3 linked regions of the Homo sapiens genome follow. The protein of the gene in region 3 interacts with the protein of the main gene of each other region in a biochemical or structural test. Each region holds a gene or a part of one and is shown on either strand. Other genes may lie near its edges.

The links.
Region 1: the proteins of GLG1 (region 3) and GOLPH3 form a complex in vitro, tested with the Homo sapiens proteins (one study listed by BioGRID).
Region 2: the proteins of GLG1 (region 3) and GOLPH3L form a complex in vitro, tested with the Homo sapiens proteins (one study listed by BioGRID).

Annotation. Positions count from the first base shown.
Region 1 is NC_000005.10:32,124,114-32,129,352, forward strand, and holds the end of GOLPH3 (Golgi phosphoprotein 3), read right to left. Parts: intron 2,524-5,239; coding exon 2,099-2,523; 3' UTR 603-2,098; downstream 1-602. UniProt on the Homo sapiens protein: Phosphatidylinositol-4-phosphate-binding protein that links Golgi membranes to the cytoskeleton and may participate in the tensile force required for vesicle budding from the Golgi.
Region 2 is NC_000001.11:150,687,140-150,694,274, forward strand, and holds part of GOLPH3L (Golgi phosphoprotein 3-like), read right to left. Parts: intron 1-7,135. UniProt on the Homo sapiens protein: Phosphatidylinositol-4-phosphate-binding protein that may antagonize the action of GOLPH3 which is required for the process of vesicle budding at the Golgi and anterograde transport to the plasma membrane.
Region 3 is NC_000016.10:74,446,805-74,450,114, reverse strand, and holds the end of GLG1 (Golgi apparatus protein 1 isoform 3 precursor), read left to right. Parts: 3' UTR 1-2,675; downstream 2,676-3,310. UniProt on the Homo sapiens protein: Binds fibroblast growth factor and E-selectin (cell-adhesion lectin on endothelial cells mediating the binding of neutrophils).

The sequences.
Region 1 (5,239 bases), on a different chromosome or scaffold from region 3:
GCTAAGTGTGCACTCTGGTCTAATGCAAACACTGACAGAAGTTCAGGTGAGGTCCTTTTCCCCCTTGCTTGGGAATACTGATGCTGCTGATGAAGTGAATACCTCAGAAATCTATTACCTCACCTCTAACATCTTCTCAAGTGAAAAACAGGAACTTTTCACTCGATAAGAAATTCCAGTATACTGGTATCAGTTTCCCAATATCTACTTTATGGGAAGACACTTTAATAGTTCCTACATGTAGTTACCACCAGCAGTATCATTTTTGAAGGTAAAGAAGGTTACTCCAATGGATAGAAAAATCTGTCTTTTTTCCATGCATTAAAACTGGGGCCTTGACCAGCCCCGTTTTTGCAAATAAAGTTTTATTGGAACACAGTCTAACCTATTTATTTGTATTATCTATAACAGTTTTCATTCAGTAAAGTTCAGTAGTTGCAACTGACACAGCTGGCGGCTCACAAAGCCTAAAATATCTACTATCTGGCCCTTTAAGAAACCCAAGCCCTGCATTAAAATATTACAATGCTACAGTAAGTAACATTTCATTTGAAAGAAAACTAAATGAGAATACAAAAACACAAATGACATGCTTGCTCTGATTCAGGCACTTTCAAGATCATTGTTTATTTATTACTTCAGATAAAAAGATAGTATACATATTAGGGAATCCCTTAAAATTCAACTCTAGAGTTATACACCATCTAGTACTTTTGCAATGAATGTTAACAACAACAAAAAAAATCTCTAAACACCTGAAAGCCCCACTATTAACATGGACTATGGTAATAAAAAATTTTGACATTTAATTTGTTCAACATATAGTATTTACATTATGAAACCAATGGTGATGATACAATAAAGTGATAAAGAAATAGTAAAAATAAACTTTAAAAAGCAAAGGTTTATAGTCTGACAATGCTAATTATCCTAATTGTATATAAAAAATTAAAACATAGAGCTTTCTGTTACAAAATTCTTAATCCTCTGGGTTGTAATCATTACTTGCTACCAATTTACATGCAACATCTGCTAGGACTGACATTTGATTTTTTTCCCCAAGAATGTGTGAGTAGATAAATGACATTTCAGAGCAGATATTAATTTACTTGTGGACAGAAAAAGAAACTCAAGATTGGTACTGGTCACAAGCCTCTTCCCAATAGAAATTATAAAAACAGTAAGATAAAATTTAAAAAAAATCTAACAAGGGGATGCATAGGCAAAGAGTACCATAAATGGCACAGCTCAAAAAATCCCAGGACCAATCAGACACACATCTTTTCTCTCTCCTTCAGCGACAAGAGGTCGATTTTGCCATCAAATAACCATGATTGAAGCAAGCGAGGGGCACCAGGTGTACAACTGATTAGATCTTGCAAAATACTAAGATGGGAGCAGGGGTGGCCAGAAGAAGGGGTAATTTATATATAATTCAAACTATATACAGCATAAATGGAATGCAGCCCATCCCAAACTGGCTCTGTGAAACAATTGGACCTTTATAGTTAAAATTATAACAAGTGTAATAATACAATAGATTTACATGGGAAGCAAAATCCAAGGGACATTTTATATTAAGTATTTACTGTGCTGTTTCAATTTAAAAATAATTTTGCTAAGTATACATCTCAACTGAAGTCTATGTAAAAAATGTCCTAATAGATACAGATATTTACCTTTGGTGAGTTGAAGGCCTTTTTGTGACTTCTGTCTGAACTGTAGGCAGAATGCTAGATGTACATGCACATATGGAGAAACTCAAGCTGAGGTCATCCAAAAGCTGTGCGTATGAGGAGGCTGGAGGTACTTTGAAAGTCAAAGTAGACCAGAAACCCAAAACAGGTAACAGTGAGGATGGCAACAGGGAATGGAATGCCAATATGGCAGTAAAACTTTTTTTAAAAACAGAAAGAGGAAGGCCTCTCGTACCAGCAGAATCCTGTACACGTACAAAAAAGAAAAAGCCACCCACCATTTTGTAAAACAGAAGCCAATTATAGTGTGGGAAAGTACAAATTACAGAAAACCAGAAGTCAACAGAAGAAAAACTACTGGTTTACTTGAGAGAAAGGAGAATGGTTCACCCCGAGCAGAGTTACTTGGTGAACGCCGCCACCACCGCCCACAGAACCTCATTGGTGTTGGCCTTCAGACATTCCACTTCAGGGTCTAAGTCGAGAAGCTGCCGCACTCTCTTGGTAGCCAAATCATACTGCTCGTCCAGAAGAGGAGCAAAAGCATTCTCCAGGACGTCCGAGGCATGAGCCAGGTAAATGAGGGCCAGCAAGCGCCTGTCCATGCGGTGAGGGTCATTCACCCATTTGTCAAGAACGGCTTCCTGTACTTTCTTGATGAGGCGCTGCTTAATGTTGTTATTGGTGAGGGGATGTGTTGTCATGTCAAAAAGTAGGAAGTTCTGTTTCTCTGTTGTCAATACACCCTTTTCCACCAGGTTTTTAGCTAATCGTTCCCGTACATTTCTTAACTGATAATGCAATTTTAATGGATTCCATGTCTCACCTAAACAAAAGATTTCAGAAGTTAGAAATGATGAGTATTATCTGCTAATTTTGCAAAAATTTTGTACTATTAAACAGTAAAATCTGATTTTGCCCCAAGAAAAACAGAAGAAAATCTGCCATGTTTTTCTCCCTAACTAGACCATGAACCCCTTAAGCCTAGCCAGACCTTTGGATTCTAAGCACCCAGCACATCCTCAGCCACAGGAGTCACTCAGACGACTAAACTGCAAGCAGTCTTCAGACCAGAGTCAGTAACCCTTAGTCTTATGTGGAAATGAGCCAAATATTATGTTTGAGCTTCCTTCCAGCTGAAGTCAAAAAGCAGCCAATAGCCAAATAAGTTTTCTATTAAACACCAGTCTGCAACTAATAGACTAAAAAAAAAAGCTTCCTGATTAATATGTTATTCCTGAAACTGCTACACATATACAGCCTATAGAGGTAGGAAAGCCTGTTTAGGCCATGCTATTATTTGATAACAATATAAAGCTAATTCTGGAAGGATACAAATTTTCACAATTTTAACCTTGCCATCCATACATATTTCCTTTTGAGAGAGAAATATTTAAAATAAAACCAAACGATTTTTCACTAAAGTGGGTTCTTCTTTATAGAAAACTGGAAGGAAATACACCAAAATATTAATCTTACTTATCTTTGGGATTATGTGTGCTCAACTTTTTTTGTGCTTTCTGCATTTTCCAAATGATCTCCAATGAACATGCAACTATTTTTATACTTAAAAAAACTATATTTTTCTAAATTAGAATATGTTAAAGATCAACCACAGGCATCTTTTTTAAATGCAAACGTTGTAAGGTCGAGATTTTCTAATACTGAGAGAAAACCTTCAGCCACACTGTCCATTACAGGAGCCATTACCCACATAGAGCTATTTAAATTAATTTAAAAATTCATCTCTTCAGTGGCACTAGCCACATTTCACGTATACAATAGTGACGTATGGCCAGTGGCTACACCCCACAGGAACAGAACATTTTCATCATCAAAGAAAGTTCTAGCGGACTATCTTAAAATTTTAAGTTGCTGTCTTAAAATATATTACCATTCAACTGGACAGAGACACAATTATTTTCCTATACTTAATACTAAACAACATAGGCCTATGATGAAGTAATCATTCCTAAAGCTGCCCTCTCATTGTAATTAGAAATCTCCATAAAATATACGAAAAAACTGTTTTCAGACACTAGTCAAAAGCAGCCCAGAACTGTGACACTTGAGTGCAGCCTATGTGAGCCTGACAACTGCCTAAGCTTACCACCTAGAGGCACGTCCCAGGCAGCAGAGCAGGCAGGAAGAACCCAAGCAGAGCACAGCAGTCCCATCACGTTAAGGCAGCAGAGATCAGAGTTCAGGGTAGCTAAGGCAGCTGCAGTGTGCAAAGCAGACTACTGGAGAAGGGGGACCTACACAGATAAAGAGGTCTAGAAATCTGCAAGGTGTTCCTTGAGTCTTGGGCTGAAAGCTAAAGCTACATGTGTTAGGGTGAGAAATTCCACAAAGCTAGGCAAAGAACACCTACCAGAAAGTGAACAATTCTAAGAGTTCAGTAGAGCTGGGAAAAATGTGATTGCCAACTAGCCAGAGAGCAAAAGCCTCACTAAAAACCAGGACATTCAGAAGGAATACTAGAAAATTCACATCTTAGTAGTAGGGCTAAACCAGTCCTAGAGTATAGACCACCCTAGACATGCCCTAATAAAGATTAAAAGCGGCCAGGCGCGGTGGCTCAAACCTGTAATCCCAGCACTGTGGGTAGCCCAGACGGGTGGATCACCTGAGGTCAGGAGTTCGAGACTAGCCTGGCCAACATGGTGAAACCCCATCTCTTCTACAACTGCAAAAAATTAGCCGGGCATCGTGGCAGTTGCCTGTAATCTCAGCTACTCGGACGGCTGAGGCAGGAGAATCATTTAAACCGGGGGAGGGCAGAGGTTGCAGTGAGCCGAGATCGTGCCATTGCTCTCCAACCTAGGCAACAAGAGTGAAACTCCATCTCACAATTTAAAAACAAAAACAAAAAATTAAAAACAAGTTGATCCACAAGTAACTTAGCTGCCTACCAAGACAAAATTCAACACTCTTTAAAGAAAGACCATAAAATTCATCACTTAACATTCACACTGTCCAGCATCGAAGTTAAAAAAAAAAAAAAATCACTAAACTTGCAAAGCAGCAAAAAAGTGACCTAAAACTAGGGGTAAGGGGGGAGTCAACAGAAACAGTCCCAGCCTGGGCAACATGGTGAAATCCCGTCTCTACAAAAAATACAAAAGTTAGCCGGGGCCAGGCATGGCGGGTTACGCTTGTAATCCCAGCACTTTGGGAAGCCAAGATGGTGAAACCCTGTCTCTACTAAAAATACAAAAATTAGCCAGGCATGGTAGCAGGTGGCTGTAATCCCAGCTACTCGGGAGGCTGAGGCAGGAGAATCGCTTGAACCCGGGAGGCGGAGGTTGCAGTGAGCCGAGATTGCACCACTGCACTCTAGCCTGGGTGACAAGCACAAGACTGTCTCAAAAACAAAAACAAAAAAACCCCCAAAAAACAAAACCAAAAAAACCCTAGTGTCCTAGTGCAAGTCATCTTAATCTATTTCTCCATTTACTCATCTATAAAGTGAAAGTAACAAATTTATCAAGCTCATAGGGCTATTACGAGGATTAAATATCAAGTTCTTAGAACGAAGC
Region 2 (7,135 bases), on a different chromosome or scaffold from region 3:
GTCTTGTTCTTTGCTCGGCCTGCTATTAATATTTTAATTATAATAAAATGCTTTAGGATTGAGTCACTTTTTAAGGCGGCCAATTTTCTTCATTCATAGCCAATAATCAACAAGTTGGACACTGACTGACTGTGACTGATTTTAAAAACCTTTTTGGGCTGGGCGTGGTGGCTCACATCTGTAATCCCAGCACTTTGGGAGGTCGAGGCAGGCGGATCACCTGAGGTCAGGAGTTCGACACCAGCCTGGCTAACGTGGTAAAACCCCGTTTCTACTAAAAATACAAAAAATTAGCCGGGCGTGGTGGTGCATGCCTGTAATCCCAGCTACTTGGGAGGCTGACACAGGAGAATTGAACGCGGGAGGCAGAGGTTGCGGTGAGCCAAGATCGTGCCACTACACTCTAGCTTAGGTAACAAGAGCGAAACTCTGTCTCAAAAAAAAAACAAAAAAAAACTTTTTGATTAGTGAATTTTTTTTACCAGCTTTAAAGAAGCTTTTACTTCTAATCTCCTATTGCTAATAAAGATGAACTATACTTGATGGAGGATCATCAGCAGCTTGAAAAAGCGTAGCATTAACATACTTTATAATTAAAAATACATATGAATTTCATACGTATAATTCCCATACGTATAGTGGATAACAGTAGATTGTTTGAAAAAAGATAACTGACAAGTACCAGGAGAATTTTAGCAGCACTGTTCATAATGAACTCTTGAATGTGCATTAACCCATAGAATGAATAGTGGTATATTCATGTAATGAAATATTAATCAGGATGAACTGGATTAAACTATATGCAACAACATGGACAAATCTCACAAACATTATATTGATCAAAAGAATACATTAAAATATTAACCCAATAAAATAGAGTTTAAAAACAGGCAAAACTAAAATATATTGTTTAGGGATATACATACATGTCAAAACTACAGGGAAGTGGGCAGCATGTGATTAGGGGCAGGCATAAGAGAAGCCTTCCAGGATGCTGATATTGTTCTATTGGTGATTACATGACTGTTGGCTTTCAAACTACTTGTTAAACTGTATATATGTGCTTTATACAATTTTCTGGATACACTGTATTTCACAATTTTAGAAAACTTAAACAATAAAGCATGTAACTGGATGTTCAGCTCTCATACTTCAGTTTTAAAACACTGGAGTTCATTAAAAGGAGATGGGATGCTTTCAGACATCTGTGGTTATTCCAGTTGCACATCACTGAAATTATTAGGAACATCCAGTTGATGTTCTTTTTTCCTAGAACCTGTCTCTTTACAGACTAACTCACTCTTATTCCAGTTAAGAGTTATTACCTCCTGGCGGGGCGCAGTGGCTCACACCTGTAATCCCAGCACTTTGGGAGGCCAAGGCAGTTGGATCACCTGAGGTCAGGAATTCAAGACCAGCCTGGCCAACATGGTGAAACCCCGTCTCTACAAAAATACAAAAATTAGCCGGGGATGGTGGCAGGTGCATGTAATACCAGCTACTTGGGAGGCTGAGGAAGCAGAATCGCTTGAATCCGGGAGGTGGAGGTTGCAGTGAGCCAAGATCACGCCACTGCTTTGCAGCCTGGGTGACAGAATGAGATTCTATCTCAAACAAACAAACAACAAAAAAAAGAGTTATCACCTCCTGTAAGTCTTTCCCAACATCTCTTCTTCCCTCTCCTACTGCTCCTTCCCACCACCCATCTGATTTACGTGCTTTTCCTCTGTGTTTCCTTCCTACTCAGAACACACTTATACACATATCACATTGTTCTGAAATGGTCTGCTGACTTTCTGGCTTCTACTCCCAGCATCTCCAACCATCCCTATGCCACTAAACCATAAATTGACCTCAAAAGCAGGGACAATTGTTTTTGTTCTCTCTTTCTATGACATATGAGTCATTCAATAAAATTTTTGGTGATTAAACAAATAAGTGAAAATGTATTGCCATATTTCCAATGGATAATACTTCTTGCCAATTTTTACCACAGTGACATGAGAAATATGATGAAAAGCTTTTCTTTCACAGTAAGTAGTAAGTATTCAATAAATGGCATTACTAGGAGAAAGCTTTCCAAGAAAGAGAGGATGGTTGAAAAACATTATCCACAAATTAAATAGATGAGAAATGAAAAGACCACTAGGAGTCAAAAGCAGTAATTGGCTTACTCCCCTTACAGGTAACTTAAGAAACGATTCTAATAAATGAAAAGTTTTATACATTAGCAAGTCAATTAAAACACTGTTCATGAGTTAATAATCTATATCAAAACTCTTACCAAAGGCAATAATAACAAATAAGCAGATTCCTGATTTCAACAGGAGATAAACCTATTTTATTTTGGTCAGGCTTGTGCTCAATGTTTACTTTCTCAGTTGAGGTCAGTGTTATTGAACTGAGATAGTATCTAATTTTAACTGTGCTTGAAAGGTTATACTCTTCAAATTATATTTAAATTTCTTGATTGTTTTCATAAGACAATGATACTTAATATTTAATTTAATTAGTTTATATTTTTTGAGGCAGTCTTACTCTGTCACCCAGGCTAGAGTGCAGTAGTGTGACCTTGGCTCATTGCAGCCTCTGCCTCTTGGGTTCAAGAGATTCTCCCATCAGCATAGCTAGGATTACAGGTGCATGCCACCACACCCAGCTAATTTTTTTTTTCCTTTAGTAGAGATGGGGTTTCACCATGTTGGCCAGGCTGGTCTCGAACTCCTGGCCTCAAGTGATTTGCCCGCCTCAAACCTCCCAAAGTGCTGGGATTATAGATGTGAGCCACTGCGTCTGGCCAGATGCTTAATATTTTAAAACCAGTCTGTGGTAGTTACCCCTCAGAAGAATTTTTTTTTTTCTTTTAAGACAGGGTCTCACTCTGTCACCCAGGTTGGAGTACAGTGGCACAAACACAGCTCACTCCAGCCTTGAACTCCTGGGCTCAAGCAATCCTCTCGCCTCAATCTCCCAAGTAGCTGAAACTGCAGGTATGTGACACCATGCCAGGCTAATTTTTATATTTTTTGTAGAGATGAGGTCTCACTATGTTGCCCAGGTTGGTCTAGAATTCCTGGCCTCAGGCAATCCTTCTGTCTCCCAAAGTGCTGGGATTACAGACAGGAGCCACCGTGCCTGCTTGAAAGACACATAGTTTCTAAAAAAATGATAATACTGGGTTCTAAACAGAGGATCTTAGGGAACTCTCCAGTAAAAGTTTGGGAGTTTGGGACACAAAATTTAACATTTAGGATTTTTTCCTTTTTTGACTTGTCACAAATCCCAAACCATGTAAAAACAAGCAATTATATACACATTAAAACATACTCACAAAGAACATAAAAATGTTATTAAGCCCTTAATTTGGACACAAAAATGAAATGGGCTTTGCTGTTTTCATTAGGCTGATTCTCTTTTCCCTAAAGGAAAGAGTCTAAAAGTCTCTGCCTGGTAACAAAATCTATAATCTGGTCCAAATCGAATTTACTGATTTTGAATCCCATTGTTCTCCACCTACTTCAGTCATACTGGCCTACTCACAGTTATCTCCCAAACTCATCAAGCTCATGATACCTTTGCTCACTCAGGTTCCCTCATCCAGAACGTGTTTCCTTTTCTCCATTCATGTTAATCCTCCCATTTTTAAAGGCATGGCTTGTTTTACTGCCTTTTTCTATTCTTCCCCGGATTACTCTATCTCATGATGGTTTCTCCTCTCTCTAACTCCCTTGGCTCATTCTAACATGCAAAAACTTGCTTTTTATTGTTGTTTACTTTAAAAAAAATATTTTGCATTGTGAAATATAATGTACACACAGAAGAATAAACAAAACAAAGTAAAAAGCTTAATTATTCCAAAGTGAAGATCTATGGCCCAGGTGCAGTGGCTCACGCTTGTAATCCCAGCACTTTGGGAGGCCAAGGCAGGTGGATCACTTGAGATCAGGAGTTCAAGACTAGCCTGGCTAACATGCTGAAAACCCTTCCCTACTAAGAATACAAAAATTAGCCAGGAGGGACAGAGCAAGACTCCGTATCAAAAATAAATAAATAAATAAAAAAGGCCGGGAGCAGTAGTTTACGCCTGTAATCCCAGCACTTTGGGAGGCCACACCTATAATCCCAGCACTTTGGGAGGCCAAGTTGGGTGGGTCGCCTGAGAGGTCAGGAGTTCAAGACCAGCCTGACCAATATGGTGAAACCCCATCTCTACTAAAAATACAAAAATTAGCCAGGCATGGTGGCGGGTGCCTGTAATCCCAGCTACTCAGGAGATTGAGACAGGAGAATTGCTTGAACTCGGGAGGCGCAGGTTGCAGTGAGCCAAGATGGTGCCACTATACTCCAACCTGGGTGACAGAGCAAGACTCTGTCTTAAAAACAAAAACAAAAACAAAAACAAAACTATGAAACTTCCTCTAGGTCCAGAAACAGAAAATTGTTACTATCTAGAAATCCTCTCCATTTTCCTTCCTAATTACTAACACCCTTTTCCTTCCCCTATCCCTTACAAAAAGATAATCACTATTCTAAAAACTATAGTAATTCCTGGCTTGATTTTGTTTATAATTGTACCACCTAAATATGCAACCTCAAATACAATAGTTTTTTGAGTTTCATATAAATGGAATCATACAGTATGTATATTTTTGTGTTTGGCTTTTTTTATTGAACATAATGTGAGAAATATACATGTTGTATAACAATGTTCATTTTCATTCTGTATAGAAAACATATTTATACTCATTTAAACAAATGGATGACTCTTTTTTTTTTTTGATGATTCATTTTTATCCATTCTGCTGTTGATGGACCTTCGGGTTACTTAACTTTTAAAAAGTATGTATCTTTTTGTCTCTCCAGCTAGAATGCAAGTTTCTTGAAGGCAGGGACCATATACTATACTATTTTATATTTACCTTAGTATTAATATTTAGCATAATCCTAAGCACATAATGGGTGTCCTCAATCACATTAAATATTGATTAAATGAATCTATTGATAGTTTGAGAGATAAGAAAAAAATAAGTACAGTTGGGAATCAATTTAATATTTTTAGAGATAGTTATGTAACTGGCCTTTTGTAACTACTACTATTTAAATAAATCACAAAGTTTGACCTCTTCTATTCATTTACACCTAAGGATTTATTGTCTTTTATTCTTCCTGAGCCAAATGAAAGCTAAATATTTGTTAACTATCCTCAAAAATAAAATTAGAGCAATTCAAAAGGTGGTTAATTGTTATGTGCTATTATTTATTATTTTTTGAGGCCTTGCTCTGTTGTTCAGGCTGGAGTGCAGTGACACAATCCTGGTTCACTGAAGCCTCGACCTCCGAGGCTTAAGCCATCCTCTTGACTCAGCCTCCTGAGTAGCTAGGACTACAGGCATGTGCCACCATGTCCAGCTAATTTTTTTGTTTTAAATTTTTTGTAGAGATGGTGTCTCACCATGTTGCCCAGGCTGGTCTTGAACTCCTGGGCCCAAGCAATCCTCTTACCTTGGCCTCCCAAGTGTTAGGATTACAGGAATTAGCCATTGCATCCAGCCATCTGCTTATTTTGTACAGTATCTCACCAATATGTTAAGTACTCACCATGGCCATAGCTCTTAATGAGCTGCTTTATTTTTTATTCTATTTCCTAAAATTTATATTAACCATTATAAACACATGAAGACAAGCCCAAAAGCAAAAATTCCAGTGCATAAGGTCAGCAGGAAATTAATCATTCCTATTCAAAGCTAAAACAAACCAAATAGCTTTTAGTTCTATATCCTCTTTTTATACAGTCAGTGACTGTTTCCTAGGTAATGTGTAAACGTCTCAAAAGAGTATTTATATCACCTAATCTTCAGTCCTATTCTGACATTCTCTTGGAGAGCTGGTTTTGCCTTTTCGTTTATTTGCCTTTTATAAAACTGAAGGCTCATCAACTTCTCAGCAAACAGGAAAATATATTTCCGGGCAAGAATTTCTGATATACCTACATCTTGGCCAGGTACACATAAGCATGTCTCTAATATTAGTTTTAACAATACACAGACTATAACTGGTCTGTAAATTTTGTTCAAGTTGGTAATTTAACAAGAAAAAAAGTAAAAAGGAAAATAGTAAATAAATGAAAGGCAAAATCTAAACAACAATGGTATTTCCAAGTCGAAGAATTATGTAGAAAAGAAGAGCTGTTACTACTTGTATGCAGCCAATTCACTTCTAGCTAAGGATAATTATCAAAGCCAAATTTAGTACTTTTAAAATCTAAAATAACATTCTAATTTTGTATGTTTTCAAAACTGAGGCCAGTAATAAATATACCTCTTTCTTTTCTTGCAGGCGGTGGGCGAGGGGGGGCGGTTATTTAAGGCTTTCCTGGAAAGAAAGCAGATTGTTTAAAATGTTACCTTCGTAACTTCTTCATGAGGGAATAGTGTGATGAGAAAACACAGCAAAAAGTTACAAATGAAGGATGATGATGTATACTAGTAGAGAAGCCAGGGAAATTTCTGGTTATATCACAAGACTCAGGACCTTAAGACTAACTGTACTATAAAATAAATGTTCCATTAAATAAGGAGACATTTAGGGAAAAAAGAGAAAAGCTAAAATTATTTTTAAAAATTTTCAAAAATTAAAATAATCCTCAATTGTTTATGTATGTGTGTGTGTGTGTGTGTGTGTATATATATATATATATATATATATATATTTTTTTTTTTTTTTTTTTTTTTTTTTTTTGAGGCAGGGTCTCACTCTGTCATCCAGGCTGGAGTGCAGTGGTGCAATCTTGGCTCATTGCAACCTCCGCCTCCCAGGTTCAAGTGATTCTCCTGCCTCAGCCTCCCGAGTACCTGGGATTACAGGCACCCGCCGCCACACATGGCTAATTTTTTATTTTTAGTAGAGACGGGGTTTCACCATGTTGGCCAGGCTAGTCTTGAACTCCTGGCCTCAAGTGATTCACTCACCTCGGCTCCCCAAAGTGCTGGGATTACAGGCGTGAGCCACCGCGTAATCCAACTGTTGATATTTGCCTTATAAAGATGCACAGAGGAAAATAAAAAATTATTTCTGCTATAAGAAACCTACCAATTGTTTATTTCTGTAAGGCAACTAATCACACATGTTCCTTGTC
Region 3 (3,310 bases):
TGTCATCTGGACTTACCAGTTCATGCCAGTGTCCCTGTGACTTATGCATAGTGTGCGCCACAGCCCTCTAGAGGTACCTGGAGCCCGGACTGCCAGGCTGGAGGCTCTGGGGTACTGAAGGTGAGCTGTCTGGGCAAACTATTAAGAACAAGACGAACTGTTCACAATGGAGCTTCTCCCACAGATGGGGAGCTCTGTGAGGCCTTCACCTGGGTGCATGTTGGACTTCCATTGCTGTTGCTGTTGTCCCTAGACAAGCCCGTTAGCAAGAAGCACCGGCAGGGGAGCCATGCACTCCATAGGCTTGGGATCACCCCCGGGAAAGCGATCTTCCCCGGGCTACCACCCCCAGCTGCAGTTCTGTGTTAGTGCATCCTTCAAAGCTAGGAGAATTCTAGGGTGACCAGTGAGCTAATGTTGAGTGAGCAGGTATTGACTTGAACACACTGCAGGCCTTTGGCTGTCTCATGCTGTCCTTACTCTTCTTGGGAACAGTGAGTCACTCAGCTGGCCAGGGTGGGGATGCATCCTGGTGAAGAGACAGCTTTCCCTGAAGATGCTACAGAAAGTTACTGTCAGATTTCATTTGTTTCTGTTTCCTGAGATCAACTAACAGAAGAATCTAATGGTGAGAGTGTCTTCATTCATGTTTTACGTTTTATCAAGGCACACTGGAAAGGGAATTATGTGGCTGACTTCCCTTGGCCTTCCCAAGAGAAGATTCTGTTCTTATGTCAGTGTGGCTTCTGGAAGTGTCTCCTATCCTCCCATCCTCCAGGCCTGTGGTGTGACTTCTGCCCCGAAGTTCCTACTATAGTGAGTCATCTGGGGAGAGGCCACTGAAAAGAGGCCTTCCCTTCCCATTTCCTCCCCTGCCTCCTTAGAACACACTCTAAGTCAGAACTTAATCTAAGAAGAAGGAAGCTGGACCAGGAACCTTGGAAGTCAGCCAGCCCTAGAACAGTCAGCCTAAATTTTGGCCGTAATGGCTTTTTTGGTTTTTTGTTTTGTTTCTGAGATGGAGTCTCACTCCGTTGCCAGGCTGGAGTGCTGTGGCGCTATCTCAGCTTACCGAATCCTCCGACTCCCTGGTTCAAGCGATTGTCCTGCCTCAGCCTCCGGAGTAGCTGGGATTACAGGCATGCACCACCACACCCAGCTAATTTTTGTATTTTTAGTAGAGACGGGGTTTCACCGTGTTGTCCAGGATGGTCTCCATCTCCTGACCTCATGATGTGCCCACTTCGGCCTTCCAAAGTGGCCGCAAAGTGGCCCACTTCGGCCAAAGTGCACTTCGGCCTTCCAAAGTGCATTACAGGCGTGAGCCACCACGCCCGGCCTGGCCTTTTTTTTTTTTTTCTTTTGAGACACAGTTTCACTCGTTGCCCAGGCTGGAGTGCAGTGGCGCAATCTCGGCTCACTGCAACTTCTGCCTCCTAGGTTCAAGCAGTTCTCCTGCCTCAGCCTCCCAAGTAGTTGGGATTACGGGCATGCACCACCATGCCTGGATAATTTTTTCTTATTTTTAGTAGAGACAGGATTTCATCATGTTGGCCACGCTGGTTTCGAACTCCTGACCACATGTGGTCCACCCACCTTGGCCTCAATTATGTGCATTTTGGTATATTTACTTGTATTTCAACATCTTGTGAGTTTGAAAAACCTGAAAGGCCAGAATGCTTCCTTTTATTTCTCACCATTTGGGCAGCACCTAAGTGGTTTTGTAAAATGCAGCATCTGGTGCTGTGGGTCTCTCTCAGGCCTTGAGGGACACTTCCTTCCTCCCCACTCGCCTCCTCTCCACTAGACTTTGGTTCCTAGAGGGCGTGGGGCCGGGTCTGAGGTTCTTGCCTGCCTTCCCTCCCATTGGTCTTTGGTTGCTCATCCCTCTAACTGCACCCCTTCTTGGTCCTTCCTCCACAGACTTCAGATAATAGATAAGTCATTAGCAAACCAGACCGAATCTTTAGGGTGAAGAGCTCCCCAAAGCCATCTGGTGAGGTCATTGTGGGGACCAGGGACTGATTATTTGTCACCTGGATCACAAAGATGGGACTGTCTGCTCAGGCTGGTGGTGACAGGATCCTGACCCGTGGTCCTCTCCCGCTCCCTCTGCTCCACCAGGACACATGTATAGGACACTGTGCTGTGTGCAGTGGAGAAATCTCCCTGGGCCAGGGGAAAGTTCAGACAGTGCCTCTAGATTGTGTTTTGCCTCCTCCAATGTAGAGTTGACATCTGGACCCCAGAGCCCAGCAGGGCTTTCTGTCAGACATGCTAGGGTGGTAGAAATGGGCCCTCCAGGTCCCCCTGCAGTGCACTGGGCAGAGACCTCCGGAAAGCCGGCAGCGGGAGCGCTTCCTGGGCAGCTTCCCCCAGCACAGTGTTCCCAAACCAGTCCATCCGGAAAACAGTCTGTACAGCAAATGCTGTGTGAGATCTTAGGCTTTTCACTTTTTTTGTTTTGTTTTGTTTTTGAAAGAAAGAAAAAAATACAATTAACAAGCCTCTTTTGTAAATGGGTTTCCTTTCTATGTATAAAATCGTGGTGGTCCCTTGTTTTTACATGTTCATGCTGTGTAATTTTGAGATGTTACTGAGATATGTTCTGAACATAATGTGCATTTTTTTCTGTACAGATGAAATGGGAGAATTTAATAAAGAGTTTGCAGGTTTTTACTTGTTAAATCTTCTCTGTGGTGACTGGGAGGAACCTCAACCACCTCTCTGCTAGTGGAAGCAGTGGCCTTGAACTTGCCAACTGATGCTCACAAACCTTGCTGATCAGGTCCTTAGTTCTTGACCAGTTAGGTTCAGCAGAGTAGGACTCAAGGACTTTTAGAGGACTAGGGACCTTGATCCCCTTGGTTTCTGTATGCTGCTAGTAGCAGAGCTGGAAGTCACGTCTGGGGTTTTCTGACTCTTGAGCCAATGTGTCCAGAATTATTCATTCTACTGATATGTTTAAGCCCACATCATGAGGCTCTGTCCTGGGGAGAGCAGAATCTGGCAGCTCTGTGTACAGATCTGACGTGTGGATGGCTGGTCCTGAGAGGCGCCTGATCTTCAGTGGCCACCCTTCCCCATCACCCCCTTGTCAGTCTTCTCCCTCACATTCCAGCAGCCCAGTCCCTGCGTCAGTAGCCTTTCCAGACCTCCTCCCTGAGCCTTCTGCTGCTGCCTGTCTCGGCGAAGTTAATTTGCGTCTGCGTGTTAAAAATGAATGGCTTCAGGAATTTGCATGGTAGCAGGGGTTTCTTGAAGTGGTAATATCCATACTACGATTTGAGGAATGAGATGTGCTGCGAGA